2 separate regions of the Homo sapiens genome follow, and region 2 is linked to region 1. Evidence: fine-mapped expression QTL. Tissue or cell type: spinal cord. Region 1 holds a variant in brackets; the other region holds the start of a gene. All regions are shown on one strand. Distances are between the middles of the regions. Region 1 overlaps PRDM16 (PR/SET domain 16). Region 2 holds the start of PRDM16 (PR/SET domain 16).

The links. PIP is the estimated chance that this variant, and not a neighbour inherited with it, causes the effect.
Region 2: it holds the start of PRDM16, and the variant in region 1 is fine-mapped to the expression of PRDM16 in spinal cord (GTEx, PIP 0.97).

The regions. Positions count from the first base shown.
Region 1 is chr1:3,311,878-3,314,766 of GRCh38, forward strand. The region is part of intron 3 of PRDM16 (PR/SET domain 16); the gene reads left to right. It overlaps LOC105378604 (a long non-coding RNA gene), which reads right to left. Exons shown (of 3, transcript NR_188664.1): 2 at 1,490-1,636; 3 at 1-1,352. Among named protein-coding and RNA genes, the nearest start is that of ARHGEF16, 140 kb to the right of the region's middle. RefSeq lists enhancers at 821-2,020, 1,308-1,602, 1,359-1,408. The variant C/T (reference allele first, on the strand shown) is at 1,295.
Region 2 is chr1:3,067,886-3,070,774 of GRCh38, forward strand. PRDM16 (PR/SET domain 16) reads left to right here and starts at 1,318. Exons shown (of 17, transcript NM_022114.4): 1 at 1,318-1,411. The coding sequence starts at 1,375. LOC124903827 (translation initiation factor IF-2) reads right to left here. Exons shown (of 5, transcript XM_047436614.1): 1 at 2,329-2,889; 2 at 337-1,086; 3 at 1-163. The coding sequence ends at 1,063. It also overlaps the pseudogene LOC100420339. RefSeq lists an enhancer at 1-211.

The DNA of each region.
Region 1 (2,889 bases):
GGGGCTGCAAAGCTGCCAGTGCCTCACAGTCGCTCTACAGCTTTGCAGGTCAGCTCCCGGGGCCCCCGTCCAGAGTTCCAGACCAGCAGCATCCAGCCAGGTGCTCAGGGAGCCCCAAGAAAGCTGCTTGAGAAGGCTCTGGAGTGTCCAGCCCAGGAGTGCGGCTCATGGGCAGACTGTAGGGTTCACATCGCAGCCCGGCTGCTCCCCCATGCGACACCCTGCTCTCTGATCCTGACTCCCCCACCTTCCCACGTGTGAAATGGGATGTGCTGCTGGGTTTAAATGAGATCTGACTCCAAAGCACAGAGCTCGGCCTGGCCCATCTCGGGCCCTCAGTGGACATCCATGGCGCCGTCAGCATCCTCGCCCCACTGGGTTATTCCCACGCTCATCCTCTGAGGAGGAGCAGCCCAGCACTCAGCGGCCTGCAGGCTGGCGGGGTTGGTAGCAGCAGCCTCTCACTGGGCCGGTGACATGAGGATCACTGGGACAGGCACGGGTGTGGTGGGACCACAGGGCCCCGAGGGCAGCAGGCAGCCCCCAGCCTCCTCCGAGGTCTGTCCTGGAGGCTGGCCGCCCACCCGCCGGCTGCACCTCACAGCCGCTCCTCCCCAGCCTGCTGGTGTCTGACGTTGGCATCCCCTCTGTGGGATACATCAGGAGCCCATCCGGATCCGGGGCCGGCAGGTGGGGTTCCCGGGATGGGTTGGGAGTTCCCAGAAGTCCGGTGAGGGGCTTTCGGAAAGGGACCGTGCACCCTCCTGTGCAGAACCCGGCCTCGGCCAAGCTGCAGGCTCTGACGCTGGAATTGAAACTTACACAAATACTCCGCCGCTTTTCAGGCATGTTCCAAGGAGACATTTATGTTGGCTGAGGCGGTATTTTCCTTTTATTGCTGTTATGAGATTCAACATTTTTTCCAGAAATAACTTCTGAAAAGTGTGCCTAGATTTTGAACACTTGTGATCCTAACATGTGGTGAGAAAGGCTTTTCAAAACACACACGTGTGGACAGAGGTCCACACACGGATACGTGTGCACACACGGGTGCCTTGGGCGTGCGTCTTCCAAAAGGGGCGAGTACAGCTATCAACTTGTGACTTCCAGGAGGCCTGGGTTTGCCTACGAAGGGGCCGTGTTCCCAGTTGGCGTTCACACGTGGTGTACACACACAGGCACAGGCACCGTGTCCCAAGGCCATCTCCCAAGGGCACCCGCAGACACTGGGCAGCCTTCTCCGAAGCTGTCAGTGTCCTTCCTCGTGAGAGGATGATGAAGAGGATGTGGTTTC[C/T]GCCGCCTCATCCACAGGCCGGCTGCCCACGGAGCCTTAGACATCGAGGCCAGAGCGACTGTTGGAAAGGAATGTGACCGCGCTGTCTATGAAATGCCGCGGAGCTGGAGCCCCACTCGCCGTCACGATGAGTCAGCGCCGAGCGGTGAGTCAGAAGGGGAGAGCTGAGCTCCCAGACCGGAGGGCGGCACTTACCAGAAGCCTGTGTGCTGACCGGCCTGGTCTCCTTTGACGTCTCGAGCAGCTTGGCAGGGTGGGAAAAGTAGCCTGAGAGTGATCCCCGGGCAGTGTCCGAGGCTCTGCCGTCCCCACCCCCACAGGCATCCAGGGGAGAGAAACAACCTGGAAAGAGGAATTCAGATGTGAATGGAAACTTGTATCCAAAATTTGAAATAGTCCCTTTGGGCCTGCTCAAGAGTCCTTCCCTCCCAGCCCCTCACCTGCGCCTGCGAGGCCGTGCGGACCCCGCTCCACTCACCCCGCCTGGGGGCCAGAACCACCTCCCAGGGGCTTCCGCCAGTGCCGCAGTTGCTGACCCCAGGCAAACCTCGCCGCCTCCTGCCCCGGCGGGCCTGGGATTTGCGAATGTGTGAAGGCATTAGCTGCCAGTTGTAACTGGAACGCAGCCTAGAGGCCTCACTCCTCCAGCAGGAAGCCTTGTAGTGCAGCGAATCTGGACCCGGCCCAGCGTCCAGAGACAGGAAGCATTAATAGGAGCGAATGTGAACACTGTTCGCGCCCTGGCTGCGATTTATTGCCGATTGTGGGGAAAACATCAGTTGGTTGCAGAGTTTCATTCATCTGAATATGAAATGTAATTAGGGAGTCACCCAGTGTCAGACCCCAAGGAATAAGGTCCAGGCATGGGACCCTCGCCCCCGAATGCCGTCCTTCCCCACCGGGGGGGGGGGCGGGAACATAAAATGGACCCAAGTCACTGTCCCTTAAGGAGCGGACCGCCTGAGCCCTGGAGTGGCCCAGGGAGTCCTGAGTGCAGGGTTTCCAGGACCGTGACAAGGTTCTCCCACGTGGTGGGGGAGGACCGACCTTTAGGGACAGGACCGGTGTGTCTGGGTGGCAGTTTAGAGAGCTGGGACAGTCTGCATCACTCTGGGTGGCTCCTCTCAACCCTGGTGTGCCCTAGACTGTTTCTGAAATCGGTCCTGGAAAGGAGAGGGAGAGAGAGATGGTGTCTCTGTACCGAATCGGAAGGATTTGTTTTTGTGTAGCTAATGAGGTAGCAAAGACAGTCTGCAGGTCAGAGGAAGGCCACGATGAGGATGGGGACAAGGAGAGCTCCTGAAACCCTCCCACCTTACAAAGTCCCCCAGCCTCCCCACATAGTTATCCTGCTCCATCCAGGAGCAAACTTCATCTGCCAAATGTGTGTGAGCGTTCTCTCTCTCTCTCCTCTCTCTCCCCCCCTCCCTCCTTCTCTGTGTCAATGAAGGAAGGCTGGGGGTTTTTGTGTGTTGTTGTTGTTTCCCCTAATCGCCTTCGCCCCCGTAGCCAGTTTGTTCTCAGAAAAGTTCCTCCCCCTCCTCCTCATCTCCTGAGCTCTTTGATCTTCTAGTTCGGGTTCAGTTGCTTCGTTT
Region 2 (2,889 bases), 240 kb before region 1:
CAGCAACCTGGCCAGGGCAGCGCCTCGGTTTCCTTCCAATTCATTCTCGATTCCCAGATACTCAGATGAGAAATCCGCACTCAGGCCGTCAGGCTCCTGGGCCCGGGCCACCCTGCCTGCGCTCAGCCCGGCCCCTCCGCCGCAGCGCCTCGGAGTTTGGGGGCTACAGGGGAAGAGGAAGCGTCTGGTCGGCTCCCGTCCGAGCTGCTCCACCTGCGCCGCTGGCCTTTCCGCCCGCTACGCACCTGGGCCCCGAGAGGCCAGAGGGGAGTGTCCCCAGTGGCCCGGGTCCCCGAAGGTGGCCCAGCTCGGGCGCTCGCGCAGCCGGGTACTCACCTTGGGGGCGCGGCGGCAGGAGAGCGCGGGCGGAGAGGTGCGGGCGCCCTGGGACGACCAGCCGAGGACGCCTGGTGTTTGGACGGCTGCCCCCGCGCTGTCCCCCCGTGCGAGGCGTGTTGGCCTCCGTGGCCTCGCGAGGGACCGAGGGCGGCGGGTCCGAGTGCCGCCCGCCGGCCTGGGCAGTGGCGGAGCGCGGAGCTGGCGGCGCCTCCGCTGTTGTTTTTGAGCCGCGAAGCCCGAAGCAGCAGCCGTTGGGTGGGGGCGAAGGGGAGGAGGCGGGGGCCGGGAGGCGCGAGGGGGGCGGTGGGGCCCGGAGGGGGCTTCGGAGGAGCCGGGTTCTGGCGCGCGAGCCCCGACGCCCCCTCCAGCGATCGCAGGGCGGGGACGGGGGCCGAGGGGAGAATGCAGGAGAAAAGCGGGCCGGGGCGACGGGGAACGCAAAGCTTTTAAATTAGTAATCAAACGCAGTAAAACGGAGCAAAACCAGCCCGGACTCGCGTCCGAACTATCGGCGCGTGTGCCCCGAGATCCAAGGAAGTCGTGTGGAAAACCGCAGCCGCCGCCCCATCTTCGGCCCCGGCTGGGGCGGGAGCAGCAGCGCGACGCGCCGCGACGCAGGGGCAGGGTGGGGGGATAGTCACCTCGCCTCCGGGGCCACCTGGGTCCTTTTAAAGTGTCCGGGGTGCGGGCCCCGGGCGGGAGCGCCGAACACGGAATGTTTTCTTAAAGGGCCAGTTCCGAGCTGCGCTGAAAAGGGGGGGGGGGAGAGGGGGGAGAGATAAGTGAGACGAAGACCGAGAAGGCCGAGGAGAGCCCCCCAATCCCGCGCCGAGGCGGCGGCGGCGGCGGCGGCGGCGCGACGATGAGGATGATGAATACATTGCAAAGTTTTTTTGGCCCCGGCGAGGGGTGTCAGATTGAGTGCTCTGTGCGCATGTGCGAAGGTGTCCAAACTGACAATGCTGGGGAGATGAAGATAGTGTGTGGCTGCTTCTGGACTCAAGGAGGAGGAGAGAGATTCCGCGAGCCGACACCATGCGATCCAAGGCGAGGGCGAGGAAGCTAGCCAAAAGTAAGTCTCCCGCGCTCGGCCGCGCCGCGCCGCCGGGGCCCGGGCCGCCGGGCCGGGGCGCCCGGGCCAGGGGTGCGCGTCGGGGCGCGGCCGGCGCGCCTGCGGCTCCGGGCCCCCGGCTCGGCCGCGCGGCCCGGGGGGCTGCTCCGCCTCCCGCGCTCCGGGGCGACCGGGCTCGGCGCGGAGGCTCGGGGCGCCCGGGCCGCGCGCTCCCCGAAGGCGCCGGCCCCCTCCCCGCGGAACCCCCTCCCCCCCCACCAGTGTCAGGCGCTCGGGCCCGGGAACCCGAGGCGCGCGGTGGGGGCCGGGGAGGGGGGCGGAGGGGGAGGGCCGGGGGTGGAGGGGAGCGAAAAGTGAAAGTTAGCGAAAAGTTGACGAAAGGGGAGAGCAACTTTTTCCTCCCCGCTCGCTCTCTCCCTCTCTCTCTCCGAGTGGCTCTCAGTCCTGGTCAAATCATATTCCGGGCTTTTGAAATAGTGGGCGCTAGAGCACCGCCTTTGGCGTCCGCCAGCCGGGCGCAGAGGAGGGAGACCCCGAGCCGGGGAGGGGCGGAGGAGGGGGCGCGGGCCGGCGCCCACCCGGCTCCGCGGGCGCAGGGGCAGGGGTGGCGACGGCGGGACAGCCGCAGCCACTTGGGGAGCAAAATGGAGACTTTTGCCCGGGCTGGGAACTGTGGTCGTGAAGTTTATCCCCGGCTGTGCCCCGCGTGGTGGAGGGCGCTCCTCTGGGACGCCGGCAGCCTGCGCGGGCCGCCGGGGCGACAGTGCCTCCGACAGGAGGGACCCACCCGGCCACCTCCCGACCCGCCGCTGCCGCCCTCGGGCCCGCGTGGACCCCTCTGTACCCGCTTGCCTGGCACAGCCGGGCCCGGCGGGGACAGAGCTGCCCCGGCCAGGCTGCCCGGTCCTCGGTCTTACTTTCTCTTTCGCTCCGTCTCGGCCGAGCCCCGGGCTCCGCGCGCCCCGCCTGCCGCCAGCCGGTCCTTGCCGCGGGCCGGGTGCTCCAGCCACCCGCGCCCTCGCCCGCCACAGCGCCTCCGAGCAGCCCGCGCGCACCCCGCAGCCCCGGTCGCCGGCGCCATCCGCGGTGAGGCGGGCGGGCAGGTGAGGACAGGCGGAGCCGCGGCCCGGCCAGCGCGGCTCCCGCAGCCCCGCCGAAGCCCCGGCTGCAGCGAAGCGGCCAGCGCCGCGCGGAGCGGAATCGGCGCCGCCTGCTCCCGCCGCCCCCTCCTCTGCAGGCCGCCCGCCCGCCCACCCGCAGAAGAGGCGCCCGGGCCGCTCCCCTCGAGGTCCCCGCCCGACCCACGCCGTTCCGTCCGCGCCTCCGGGGCCGGGTCCCTCCAGGCCGGCCTCGCAGCTCCCGGGGCCGAGCCCCCAAACGTGAGCCGGGTGCGCGCGGGACTCGCGGCGGTTTTCCGAAGCTCCGCTCCCTCGGCTCGGGGCCCGCCCGGCTCGTCCCAACAGCTGCCCCGCGGCCGT